2 linked regions of the Homo sapiens genome follow. The protein of the gene in region 1 interacts with the protein of each later gene in a biochemical or structural test. Each region holds a gene or a part of one and is shown on either strand. Other genes may lie near its edges.

Evidence for each region.
Region 2: the proteins of NUMB (region 1) and PRKCZ form a complex in vitro, tested with the Homo sapiens proteins (one study listed by BioGRID and IntAct).

Annotation. Positions count from the first base shown.
Region 1 is NC_000014.9:73,287,537-73,294,562, reverse strand, and holds part of NUMB (protein numb homolog), read left to right. Parts: intron 1-1,688; coding exon 1,689-1,829; intron 1,830-7,026. UniProt on the Homo sapiens protein: Regulates clathrin-mediated receptor endocytosis. Plays a role in the process of neurogenesis.
Region 2 is NC_000001.11:2,053,409-2,060,434, forward strand, and holds part of PRKCZ (protein kinase C zeta type), read left to right. Parts: intron 1-2,032; coding exon 2,033-2,154; intron 2,155-3,075; coding exon 3,076-3,165; intron 3,166-6,132; coding exon 6,133-6,183; intron 6,184-7,026. UniProt on the Homo sapiens protein: Calcium- and diacylglycerol-independent serine/threonine-protein kinase that functions in phosphatidylinositol 3-kinase (PI3K) pathway and mitogen-activated protein (MAP) kinase cascade, and is involved in NF-kappa-B activation, mitogenic signaling, cell proliferation, cell polarity, inflammatory response and maintenance of long-term potentiation (LTP).

The sequences.
Region 1 (7,026 bases):
AGCCTGGGCGACAGAGCAAGACTATCTCAAAAAAAGAAAGTAAAAAGAGAATCCTGGAAATGAGTAAGCCAAAAAGGAGTAGTCCCAAATTCTGTTCATAAATTCTGCCCAAATCTCTGACCCTTTTAGCCATGTAGATTCAAGGCAGACTCCAAATAGCCCAACTAAGGATATAAAAACTGATATTTGATTACCTACGTATGGTGACATGCACCTGTAGTCCTAGCTCCTCGGGAGGCTGAGGCGGGAGGATGCTTGAGCCCTGGAGTTGAGGTTACAGTGAGCAGTGATTGCGCCACTGCACTCCAGCCTGGATGACGGAGCAAGACAGTCTCAAAAAAAGAACAAAAACGCCCTGATGTCTGAGGTGCTGTTCAAAAGATAAGAGTTTTCCATTTGAGTATAATCAAATTAGCTACCTGATAAAACCAAAAATATGACACTTCCAAGGAATGTAACGGAATCCATTCTTTCCACATACAACATTCACAATGACTACAATGCAGTTACTCAGCATACAACAAAACAGACAAGTCTGACTTATTCTCATCAAAATAACAATCAATAAAGACCTAACTTCAAGATGACTCAGATGTTGGAATTAGCAGACAGATTTTAAATGCCCGCCTTCACTATTTGACCAAGAAATAAATGTCTCTTGTATTTGAGTCATTGTATTGTTTTGTGTTTATAGCATCACCACAACTAGTACAGAAAATGGTACACTGAAGTAGACTGCTACCTTAACAGAAATGAAAACAGTGTATAGAAGGCATTATAACTATACTCAGTGACAGAAAGGAAATATGTTCATGTTGAATGAAGAGATAGAAATCTTGGCAGAGAATAGAAACTATGAAAAAGAAACAAATGGCTGGGCACGGTGGCTCGTGCCTGTAATCCCAGCACTTTGGGAGGCCAAGGCAGGTGGATCATGAGGTCAGGAGATTGAGACCGTCCTGGCTAACACAGTGAAACCTGTCTCTACTAAAAATACAAAAAAATTAGCCGGGCGTGGTGGCACACGCCTGTAGTCCCAGCTGCTTGGGAGGCTGAGGCAGGAGAATTGCTTGAACCCGGGAGGCAGAGGTTGCAGTGAGCCAAGATCGCGCCACTGCACTCCAGCCTGGGTGACAGAGTGAGACTGTCCAAAAAAAAAAAAAAAAAAAGAAAAAGAAACGAGTGGAAATTCCACACCTGAAAAATACAGTATCTGAAGTAACTTCACTGGATCGGGTATATATAATGTAAAAAAGCAAGGTGCAGAACTGTGTGTATGTGTGTGTAGTGTTCATTGTGTAACGAAGTTAGCATAAACATGACTATTATATGTATTTGCTTATATTTGGGAATAAACCCAAAGGATTTTTTTTTTATCCAAAGGATTAAAGATACTGATTTACATATATTGTTGAATGTGGAATCTACCATGAAAGAGATGTAAAACTAGAATCAACAAGCATATGCTTTAGAACATGTAGTTGAGAGAGGTATCTGGGCAAAGTGCCTCTTGGGATGTCTGCTGAGTCCAATTCTCAGTATTTAAACTGCTGGACACAGATCTAGGTATTCCATAGCCTAGTTGTATCAGATGTATGGATTGTGCATCATGAAATGAACATCCTGTGTTCTGAGAAGCTCAGATAACCTCATAAGTCTTCTCTTTCTTTGTGTGTCGTATTTTCTAGGACCTCATAGTTGACCAGACGATAGAGAAAGTTTCTTTCTGTGCCCCAGACAGGAACTTTGATAGAGCCTTTTCTTACATATGCCGTGATGGCACCACTCGTCGCTGGATCTGTCACTGCTTCATGGCTGTCAAGGACACAGTGAGTCCAGCAAATATGTATTTCATGATGAGTATTCTCAGTTAGCTGGGCTCTTTCTGGGTTTGCTCAGCCAAGCGGTTTCTACTACATTTTTAACAAGTACTTGGAAGTGCCTAAACTAGCCTACTTTCAGCTCCTTTTATTCAAATAGTTCACACTCTTGATGTAACCCCAGGAGTTGCAACTCACTGAACAAAATGATTGGCTGAAACCAAAGATCATTAAAGGAAGGTAAAAATGGTCTGGTGATAGTGGTTGCTAAACTTTATTTGAAACTTTTAATTATTGGAAGTATTTTCAGGGTTCTTAAATGTATTTGTTGGCTAACATATATGAGTATGGTATTAAAAATGTATTTGCATAGAGACTACTACAAATGAAAGAAGTTGGCTGGGCCTGATGGCTCACCCCTATAATCCCAGCACTTTGGCCAGGGCAGGAAGATCACTTGAGACCACAAGTTGGAAACTAACCTGGGTTACATGGCAAGACCTCATCTTTACAAAGTTAAAGAAAAAATTAGCCAGGCATGGTGGCACATGCATGTAGTCCTAGCTACATTCTACATGCCTTGGGAGGCTGAGGCGAGCAGAACACTTGAGCGTAGGTGTTGGAGGCTACAGTGAGTCATCGTGCCATTACACTCCAGCCTGGGTGACAGAGTGAGACCTTGTCTCCAAAAACAGAACAAAACAAAAAAACAAAACTGAGTTGGAGTATACTTTCAACTATTATAAAAACAGAAATACCGGCCAGGCACGGTGGTTCACACCTGTAATCCCAGCACTTTAGGAGGCCGAGGCAGGCGGATCACGAGGTCAGGAGTTCAAGACCAGCCTGGCCAATATGGTGAAACCCCGTCTCTACTAAAAATACAAAAAAATTAGCTGGGCGTGGTGGTGCATGCCTGTAGTCCCAGCTACTCGGGAGGCTGAGGCAGAAGAATCGCTTGAACCCAGGAGGTAGAGGTTGCAGTGAGCTGAGATTTGTGCCACTGACTCCATCCTGGGTGACAGAGCAAGACTCTGGCCAAAAAAAAAAGAAAAAAGAAATACTGGCCGGGCATGGTGGCTCACACCTGTAATCCCAGCACTTTGGGAGGCCGAGGTAGGCAGATCACCTGAGGTCAAGAGTTCAAGACCAGTCTGGCCAACATGGTGAAACCCTGTCTCTACTAAAAATGCAAAAGTTAGCCAGGTGTGGTGGCGCATGCCTGTGATCCCAGCTACTTGGGAGACTGACTCAGGAGAATCGCTTGAACTCGGAGGCAGAGGTTGCAGTGAGCCAAGATTGCACCACTGCACTCCAGCCTGGACGACAGTAAGACTCCGTCTCAAAAATAAAACAAAAATAGGCCAGGCACGGTGGCTCACGCCTGTAATCCTAGCACTTTGGGAGGTTGAGGTGGGCAGATCACTTGAGGTCAGGAGTTGGAGACCAGCCTGGCCAACATGATGAAACCCTGTCTCTACTAAAAATACAAAAATTAGCCGGCTGTGGTGGCGGGTGCTTGTAATCCCAGTTATTCAGGAGGCTGAGGCACGAGAATCGCTTGAACCCAGGAGGCAGAGGTTGCAGTGAGTCAAGATTGCACCACTGCACTGCAGCCTAGGTGACAAAGCAAGACTCCATCTCAAAAAAAAAAAACAAAAAACAAAAACTAAACAGAAATACTAAGTTACGGTAGAATGAACAACGCTAGAAATTGTTGCATGATAGAAGTTTTGTTTTAAAATAGAGAATAATTTCATTCTTTATGTAAATTACCCAGCATTTTAACATGAAAGACAAGTCTCTTTTAAATGACAATGATTTTACTATAAGTTGAGCATTTCAAATCCGAAAATCTGAAATGCTCCAAAATTCTAAACTTTTTGAGCACCGACATGACACTCAACAGAAATACTCATTGGAGCATTTTGGATTTTGGCTTTTCGGATTTGGGATGTCAGCTTGTTAAGTATAATGCAAATATTCCAAAATCTGAAAAAAATCTAAAATCAGAAACACTTCTGGTCCCAAGCATTTCAGAAAAGAGATACTCAAACTGTATGTACAGCAAGTGTCGAGACAGAATAGGCAGTATAGCCATTCGTGAAGGTTACAGGTCAGTAAAGCTCTTGCCAACGTTTAATCTGGAAGATAAGTAGTGGCCATGGTCTAAAAATTGACCAAAATTGTTTAAAGATCTTTGAGACATTGGTGTAAACAAATGCTAAGAGCTCAGGCTCTGAGTCAGATATGGGTTTCAGTTCTGATTCTGGTTCTTACTAGCTGTGGGATTTGGGGCAAGTTACTTAACATTCTCTGTCTTGGTATACACTTCTATAAATGGAGAAAGTGGTTGTGAATACTAAATTGGATAAAGATTATAAGCACACTTAGCATAGGTTCTGGGCCACATTACTCCAAAAATTTTAGCGAATATTGTGTAAGCTGTCCTTCATTGGTTTGACACAGGTGCTTTGAAATGAGTTGAAGTAACAAAACTGTGCTTTTGTCTTCTGTTTCTCAGACCCTAAGTAAACCACAAACTGGGTATATTTTGCTATCACTACACTTTAAAAATCTGGAGTTCAAGAGTTTCCAGATAATAACTTAAAAACCATTTTGTTGTCAAATAGTGGCCCGGCAGCCTGTTTGAATCTCCTAGGCCAATAGTTCTACTGTATCAAAATCACCTGGAGGACTTGTTTTAAAACATAGATTGCTGGGCCCCATCTCCAGCGTTTTTCATTCAGTGAGTTTGGGGTTGGTACTTAAGAATTTGCACTTAAATGTTCCCAGATGATGCTGTTGGTTGGGGATGAGGTCACTCTTCAACAACTTCTGCCCTAGGCCTAGGAGAAAGAATAAGCAAGCTTCCTTGACCTGTAGCTCTGTCCTTATAATAGACCTGCGTTCAAATGCAAACACATTCTAAGAATCTTTCAGTACTCCTGTTTCATGCTTTAACATCTGGCCTAATGTCATCCTACTGGGAAGTTAGATGGAAACTCATGTGGATTCATAGAGTAATTCTATCAGTCTTTAAATAAGTAGTCAAAAGTTTTTTTAAAAAGTTTAAAAATTTTTAAAAAGTAGTCAAAGGTAGTAAAATCTTAGGGACATAAAGCATTTTAAACCTTACCTGTCCTTATGATAACTAATACTGTCATGCAAAATCCAGTGAGACGACTTGTTCAGAGCCGTGTGTAGGAGCAGCTGCCTACGTGATGTGATTTTGAGAACACCACAAAAGACTTCCTGTTCCCAAATATCTCTTCTCACTGTGAATGATGCCAACAATTATTGTACCATCTCTAGCTTTTTTATTCCACAATTAGCAAAATGGTCTAAAATACAGATAACCCTGCTAAAAATCATCCATTGAATTTATTAAATTGACTCTGGGTAATCCAGTGTATCTATATAAAGCAGTGTTTTGTTTATATACGTCCTCCACTCCTCCCATACACAAACCAGTTTTATCTGCTTAATTCTTTTATAAGTAGACAGTGTGGATGAAAACATGCTTTCACTTTTGCCTGTGTTTGGTTGGGAGGTAGAGTTGGGAATTAGAGCTAGAGGAAGATAGGAAGGGTATGGGGGAAAACCTAAAAGCACGGAGGGCCATAAATGAGGAGGGTTGCTTAGAGGGGGGATTCAGAAAGGGGAGACAGCAAAGCTTTTGTCTCATTGTTAGTTTTGTTTGTTTGTTTGTTTTTTGAGACAGGGTCTCATTATGTCACCCAGGCTGGAGTGCAGTGGCACAATTAGAGCTTACTGTAGGCTTAAGTGATCCTCCCACCTCCCAAGTAGGACCACAGACACACACCACCACCACACTCGACTAATTTTTTCTTTTTCTTTTTTTTTAATTATTATTTTTTTTGAGACGGAGTTTTGCTCTTGTTGCCCAGGCTGGAGTGCAATGGCACGATCGTGGCTTACTGCAACCTCCACCTCCTGGGTTCAAGTGATTCTCCTGCCTCAGCCTCCCGAGTAGCTGGGATTACAGGCATGCGCCATCATGCCTGGCTAATTTTGTATTTTTAGTAGAGACAGGGTTTCTCCATGTTGGTCAGGCTGGTCTTGAACTCCTGACCTCAGGTGATCCGCCCACCTCAGCCTCCCAAAGTGCTGGGATTATAGGCATGAGCCACTGTGCCCGGCCTTTATTTTGATTTTTATTTATTTTTTGAGACGGAGTTTTGCTCTTGTTGCCCAGGCTGGAGTGCAATGGCGCCATCTCAGCTCACAGCAACCTCTACTTCCCGACTTCAAGCAATTCTCCTGTCTCAGCCTCTCAAGTAGCTGGGATTACAGGCACCCGCCACCACATCCGGCTAATTTTTGTATTTTTAGTAGAGACGGGGTTTCGCCACGTTGGGCAGGCTGGTCTCGAGCTCCTGACCTCATGATCCACCCATCTCAGCCTCCCAAAGTGCTGGGATTACAGGTGTGAGCCATCGCACCTGGCCTAATTTTTTTTATTATTTTGGTAGAGACAGAGTCTCACTGTGTTATCCAGGCTGGTCTCAAACTCCTGGGCTCAAGCAATTTGCCCATCTCAGCCTCCCAAAGTGCTGGGATTACAGATGTGAGCCACCATGCCCAGCCTCATTCCTTTTTAATCACTGGAATTATATTTGTTTATCAGAAGTTTTAAGTTTGCACCTTTTTTTCCTAGACATATTAACAGTGCATTAAGCTCCTGAAATTTGCCTTGCCTTTCCAGTAGTTTCTTAGAAGTGGCTGGTAAATATTCCCACTGCTTCCCCAAAGGGCAACTAGAAGCTTGCATGTCAAGGCTTGAAACCTTGCATAGAGTCTTCTAAGCTGTTGGCCAGGGCTGACATGACAGAGCCTAAGTGATAAAGAGTTCTCCATGGCTGCTTACAAAAGCACAGGTTGCTGGTTATCACTTTACCCCAAGGCTTGTAACAGTGAATTGAACCATCATAAGCACTACCTTAGAAAATTTATTCATTTAAATTAATATGGCATACTAATCTATTAAAACAATTTTAAGCTGGAATTTGCAACATCTTGCTTTCATAAAAACAGACATTTGGGCCGAGTGTGGTGGCTCATGCCTGTAATCCCAGCACTTTGGGAGGCTGAATTGGGTAGACCACTTGAGGCCAGGAGTTGGAGACCAGCCTGCCCAACATAGCAAAACCCCATCTCTACTAAAAATACAAAAATTAGCCAG
Region 2 (7,026 bases), on another chromosome or scaffold:
AACGTTTGTGTTCAGGGAGCTTCTGTGTGCAAAGCCCAGGGCTTGGTGCTGAGGCCAACAGAGACGCAGGAGTCTCTCCCGGGCGGCCCAGCTGGCTGCTGGGTGCTGAGTCCTGGACGCCCCTGCTGAAGGGCACAGGGCAGCTGTTTGATTCAGGATTGGGATAGGGTTGGAGGTGGTGGCCTGACACTTCCCAAGCCCTGGGGTTTTACTGGAGCCACCCACCTGGCCTCTAGATTGGCCGGAAACTGGCTTCCACTGGAGGCAGGACTGTAGGGGTAGGGGCGTGGGGCAGGAAGAGGTCAAAGGTGAAGTGATGGCCGACTCCCACTCTGGAGTTCCTGGTGGTCAGACTTTTGGACTCCAGGTCAGGCAGCAGGCGTGGATGTCAGCTTGGGGCGACCCCAGGGTGATGGGTGTGTGACCCCCCTCCATTCCTTACTTTCCTAATCTGCCATGATGCTGTGGGCTGTGGCGAAGACCAGCCAGGTTGGTTCCTGTGGGGTGCTTGGGCACTGGGGGCAGGTGCTGGGTGGCCAGTTCCAGCAGGAAGGGGTGGGTAGCTGGGGCGTCTGTCCCCCAGGCCCAGGTGGCCCAGGGTGACTGGGTGAGGCCTGTGGGGCAGGTGGGCCCTGGGCTGCTGTGTCAGGGCCGCGGCTGTGGACCGATCCTGTGTTCTGTTTGCACTGGAGTTCTTGTCTGGGATGAGAACTTTGTTTCTTGAAACTTGTCTGATGAATTCAGATAACCTTGATGGGGAGCCAGCAGTGTCAGCGAAGAGCAGAGCCTGTATCTCTGGTTGGGACATCTCACACCCCTTCAGGCTTCTTTTTATAGGCCCTGTGCTCTTGCCCCGCGCTCTTGTGGGTGTCAGAAAGCCGTAGATTTTTCTGAAAATTCAGTGTGTTCACAAGGGTGTGATTCCCGCTCTGAGTTTCAGGAAACACCAGCTGGGCCCTGTGGTGGTCCCTCCCCTCCACGCAGGGTGAGACCAGCTCTTGCTCAGTGCAGGAGGTGAGGGGGGACCTCGGGTCCCTATCAGCAGGGAAGTGCCAGCCTTCAAAGGGTGCCTGGGAGTCCGTGAGCTTCCCCAGCCCCTGGAGTTCAGGTCCTGTCTGGGGCTGAAAAGATAAAACACACTGACTCTGTGTGACTCGGTTTTAAAAAAAAAAAAATCTGCCGGGGCTTCTGCCGTGGCTGCAGCAACGGACCCAGTGCCCACTCCGGGGTCTAAAGAGTGGCCTTTCATTATGGAATTATTTAATCCCCGCCACTTCACCGCTGGCACCGTCGAGGTCTGGGGGCAGGTCTGACTGGTTTCCTTTACCTTAGTGAAGCCGGCGGCCTGCACCGACCCGGCTCGCGCCCATCCCGGGGTCACCCACATTTGGGTGAACTTGAACGAGTGCCCGACCAGGTAACGTTGCCGGACCTCCCACAAGAGGGCACTTTCTTTTCTCCCATTTTGTCCTCATTCTTTCCAGCCAGGTAGGTCGCGCTTTTTTCTCTGTGCAAGGAAGTTGATGGTGGTCATTTTTTTTTTTTTTTTTTTAATACGGAGTCTCTCTCTGTCGCCCAGGCTGGACTGCAGTGGCGCGATCTCGGCTCGCTGCAAGCTCCGCCTCCCGGGTTCACGCCATTCTCTTGCCTCAGCCTCCCGAGTAGCTGGGACTACAGGCGCCCGCCACCGCGCCTGGCTAATTTTTTGTATTTTTAGTAGAGACGGGGTTTCACCGTGTTAGCCAGGATGGTCTCGATCTCCTGACCTCGTGATCCACCCGCCTCGGCCTCCCAAAGTGCTGGGATGACAGGTGTCAGGCACTGTGCTTGGCAATGGTGGCCATTTTTTAAACTATGGTTATGGTTAATGGTTCTATTTTGTGTGTGGGAGGGGGGAGGGGGTGGGGCTGTCATATTGTCTTTGGGGAAAGTTTCATTTATCTAATCAATGATTTGGTTAGTTGGTAATCATTTTTTAATTTGATTCAAATATGCCCCACGGTAACAGATGCCCATGTCCCCTCTGCCCCAGGGACATCTTCATCACCAGCGTGGACGCCGCCACGACCTTCGAGGAGCTCTGTGAGGAAGTGAGAGACATGTGTCGTCTGCACCAGCAGCACCCGCTCACCCTCAAGTGGGTGGACAGCGAAGGTAGCCCTTGTCCCATGTTGGCCAGAATCCTCAGCCTCAGGGGACTTCGCCAGGGCAGCCTCTGTGTGCGGAGTGTGCTCAGCCAATTCTGTGGGGAGACTTAAAGCTGTGGAATTAAACTTGTTGGCGCCAACTTTTCCCCAGTGGGGATGGTGGGAAAGAGGTTGGCCACAGATGCTTATCAAGGACCTGGGCCCAGATGCCCCTAGGAAGGGCTCTGGTCTTGAACTGCCTGCAGGGGGTCTCCCTGCCCCACCCTGGGCAGGTCCTCACCTCTTCCTCTGACCTCCTTTCTCATGTCCTGGCCTTTTTCGGTAGGTGCTTCTGAAAGGATGGGCTCTTCATATTCTAGGGACCACGGGGAGGGCACAAGCAGCCAGGGCCTGCCGTGTCCACCTCCTGTCTCTTAGACACATCCTGAAAAACAAGGGGATTGGGAGACGTCCAGAGAGACCCCTTTCTCCCAGGGACTGGCGGGCAGCTCTTGGCCAAGGACACGGCCGTGCGGGTGGAGCCTGATAGCGCCCCCGTTGGGTTGGGTACAGCCCTGCAGGGCCTGGGTTCTGTACACCTCCATGTCCCTTTCCAGCCATAGAGGGCAAGGAGCTCTCCCTCCGCCCAGGACTGACCTCCGGAGAGTGTCCTCAGCCCCGCTCACTGCTTAGCCCTCCAAGTGGTGCCCAGGGCTGCAGGTGTACTGACTTCCCTTCCGGGGTGGCTCTGACGCTGCACCGGGGGCCAGGTGACTCCCTAGTGTGGACGGCCGTCCTTGGACCTCCCGACCCTGCCAGGAGGTGGCCAGTCTGAGCATCGGGACTTTGCCCCCCACCAGACCCTTGTCTGGTGTGCTGAGCGGGCTCGTCACAGCCCCCTTTGCCTCGGGCCTTCGGCGACGTCAGCACCGTCTCCTGCCCCACCCAGGTGACCCTTGCACGGTGTCCTCCCAGATGGAGCTGGAAGAGGCTTTCCGCCTGGCCCGTCAGTGCAGGGATGAAGGCCTCATCATTCATGGTTAGTGGCGGGGTCTGTGGTGGGCAGCTCTGGGGGGCTGTTCCTGGCTGTGGGTGTCTGCCGACTAGCTGGGGGATTTAAAATGGTTTAAAATCCTATGATGCCAGAGAATTTAGGGATGTCTAATATAATGCCATTTGGGTTTTTTTCTTTGACTTTTTTTTTTTTTTTTTGAGACGGAGTCTTGCTCTGTTGCCCAGGCTGGAGTGCAGTGGCACAATCTCAGCTCACTGCAAGCTCCGCCTCCTGGGTTCATGCCATTCTCCTGCCTCAGCCTCCCGAGTAGCTGGGACTACAGGCGCCCGCCACCACGCCCGGCTAATTTTTTGTATTTTTTGTAGAGACGGGGTTTCACCGTGTTAGCCAGGATGGTCTCAGTCTCCTGACCTCGTGATCTGCCTGCCTCAGCCTCCCAAAGTGCTGGGATTACAGATGTGAGCCACCGCGCCCGGCCTTTTCTTTGACATTTTATTAACCCAAATGAAAACTGCTCTTAACAAAGAACCCGTAAACCACTCAGAGGCTCCAGTGGCCAGCGTAGGGCCCGCGGCGCATGTGGACAGAGGGGACAGCCCCACCAGCCACCTCACCTGCCCGGTGCTCCCTAGGCCCGGCTCCAGGCTCACAGCTGTCCTCAGCTTTAAGTTCAAAGCCCCATGATGAGCTGACGCATGGGAGATGTGATTGTGATCATTTCCACTTTGTCTTTAGGTGGGCGTGGGCTCCTCCCCGGTACTGCTGGGGGTCTGCAGGGCGTCTGGGGCCTGGGAATGTGGTTCCAGCGCTGTGGCCAGCCGGTCACGTCTTTGTCTCTGTGTCCACTTCTGGCGTAGCTTGGGCTCCTTGCCAGGCGTCTGGCCATGGACGATTGAGTCCAAGATGGGACCAAAGCTCGAAACCACCCATGGATTTCTGACAGATCCATCATTCTCCTGGACACCGGGCTACCTGGTTACAACACTTAATTTTCTTCGCCCTTTATATCAATGAGGCTCTAAATTTAAAGACTAGGCCGGGTGCGGTGGCTCACAACTGTAATCCCAGCACTTTGGGAGGTCAAGGTGGGAGGATCGCTTCAGCCTAGGAGTTCAAGACCAACCTGGGCAACATAGTGAGACCCCCCCCTCTCCAAAACTTGTTTTATTTTTTTGAGACAGAGTCTGGCTCTGTCCCCAGGCTGGAGTGCAGTGGCACTATCTCTGTTCACTGCAACCTCCACCTCCCAGATATAAGCGATTGTCCTGCCTCAGCCTCCCGAGTAGCTGGGACTACAGGCATGTGCCACCACACTTGGCTAATTTTTTTTTTTTTTTAGTTGGAGTCTCGCTCTGTCGCCCAGGCTGGAGTGCAGTGACGCGATCTCAGCTCAATGCAACCTCCGCCTCCCGGGTTCAAGCAATTCTTCTGCCTCACCCTCCCAAGTAGCTGGGACTACAGGCATGTGTCATCACGCCTGGCTAATGTTTTGTATTTTTAGTAGAGACGGAGTTTCACCATGTTAGCCAAGATGGTCTCGATCTCCTGACCTCGTGATCCACCCGCCTCAGCCTCCCAAAGTGCTGGGATTACAGGCGTGAGCCACGGTGCCCGGCCTAATTTTTGTATTTTTAGTAGAGATGGGGTCTCGCCATGTTGGCCAGGCTGTTCTCAAACTCCTGACCTTAGGTGATCTGCCTGCCTCAGCTTCCTGAAGTGTTGGGATTACAGGCGTGAGCCACGGTGCCCGGCCCCAATTTTTTTTTTTTTTTTTTTTTTTGATATTCAGACGTGGTGGTGCACCTGTAGTCCCAGTTACTCGGGAGGCTGAGGTGGGAGGATTCCTTGAGCACAGGAGGTAGAGGCTACAGTGAACTGTGATTATTCCACTGCACTCTAGCCTGAGTGATGGGGCGAAACCCTGTGTCAGATAAATAAATTCATAGATGTGCCTAATCTAGTCCTTTTTATTGTGGTTGTGATAGTAAGCACATTTTGCCTCTCTATGTGGAAAGATACAGTGGCTTAAAAATTCACATTGTTTTCTAGATAAAAGAAAAATAGGGCTGGGTTCAGTGGCACACACTTGTAATCCCAGCACTTTGGGAGGCCGAGGCAGGTGGATCACTTGAGGTCAGGAGTTCAAGACCAGCCTGACCAACATGGTGAAACCCCATCTCTACTATAAATACAAAAATTAGCCGGGCGTGGTGGTGTACACTTGTAATCCCAGCTACTTGGGAGGCTGAGGCAGGAGAACTGCTGGAACCCGAGAGGTGGAGGTTGCAGTGAGCTGAGATTGTGCCACTGAGCTCCAGCCTGGGCACAGAGTGAGACTCCATCTGAAAAAAACCAACAAAAAACAAAAAATGTTTGTTTTTTTAAAGTTTCAATACTTTTATGTGTATACACACACACATAAAAAAGTAGAGATGGGGTTTCGTCATGTTGGCCAGGCTGGTCTTGAACTCCTGGCCTGAAGCCATCCTCTCATCTCGGCCTCCCAAAGTGCTGGGATTGCAGGCGTGAGCCATCATGTCCAGCCAAGTTTTAATACTTTCTAAGCACCTATTTTAATAATTTATTGTGGAAGCCCAGGATATATGTTAAAATAATTTTGAACTCTGTCTTGAGTATGAAGAAGTGGAATCTAAAGTGCTTTTAAAAGTCAGTGTTCAAAGTAATTGCATTTCTTTCCCATTTTTATATAGTTTAAAAATACAAATCAGTAGCTTCCTCTGATGGCTTTGCTGTCCAGGTCCCTCTGATTGCCTTTTACTCTAAGTTTTTCCGTGGGTTTTAAAGTCGGAGCCTGGCCTACGTAGACGCACGGGGTTTTGCGTCTCCCAGGAGCGGGCTCTCATTGGCAGTGCCACGTGCGCCTTGCGTGAAGTCCACGTGCTCAGCCTGACTGAGGCGGGACTTCCTCCGTGAGACTGTTGAGTGGCAGCCGCAGGGTCTTGACGCTGTCTCTTTCTCTCTCTTGTCCAGTTTTCCCGAGCACCCCTGAGCAGCCTGGCCTGCCATGTCCGGGAGAAGACAGTGAGTACTGGGGTTTCCTACGCCGGTCTCGCATGTTACGGGGTTGAACTGTTGATCCGTTGTGCCACGGAGGTGGCAGTGGTGCCGTTTTCGGAGGTTCACCCTCGTGGAGCGTCAGGGCAGGAGCAGCCGTGGTGACCGCAGGTGGGGTTTTCACTGCAGCTGCTGCCTGTGCGTGTTCTGGCTGACAGCACCACATGGCGGGGGACTCGCTTGGCTGGTTGGTAGCATGAGAAGTCCAGGGGTGCCCTGCCGTCTCCCTAGGAGGGAGGGGCCAGGTGGGAGGCTGGACACTGCTCCTTTGTGGCTGCCTCAGCTCACGACCACCCCTAGGCCAGTCGTCTGCTCCTCCTGGTCCCTGCTGGCCCCTGAGCTGGTGTGGGGGCTCCGTTCATCCCACACTGGCTCCATTGTTGGGAGAGGAAGGAGAGTGAGTCCCGGGGGCTGTGGCTTCAGAGGGAAGCTTCTGACCTCACTTCCTACTGCATCCCGGAGACTGTTGGGCCCTGAGCAGGTGGCTACGCTGCTCTCGGGCCGCGCATCCCATGGCTGTGCTTGGTGGGGTTCCACCCCCACTCTCCAGACCCCACACGGCCTCCAGCATCCGTGCCATGCCTTGTTCGTTGTGTGGGCAGGAGCTCCTGGACCGAGGCCGCTGCCTGTCCAGCGCAGGGCACGTGGCTCAGTGCCCTTCAGGCAGGGCTTCCCCCACCCCTGCTGCCAGGGCACACACCTCGCTGGCCTCAGGCTGGATGCTGGGTGTTGGCAGTGCCCTGTGTTGGGCGGGAACTGGGGGTGGGAGCAGATTCAGGCCAAGAGGGTGAGTGGGCAGTTGGGGCGAGA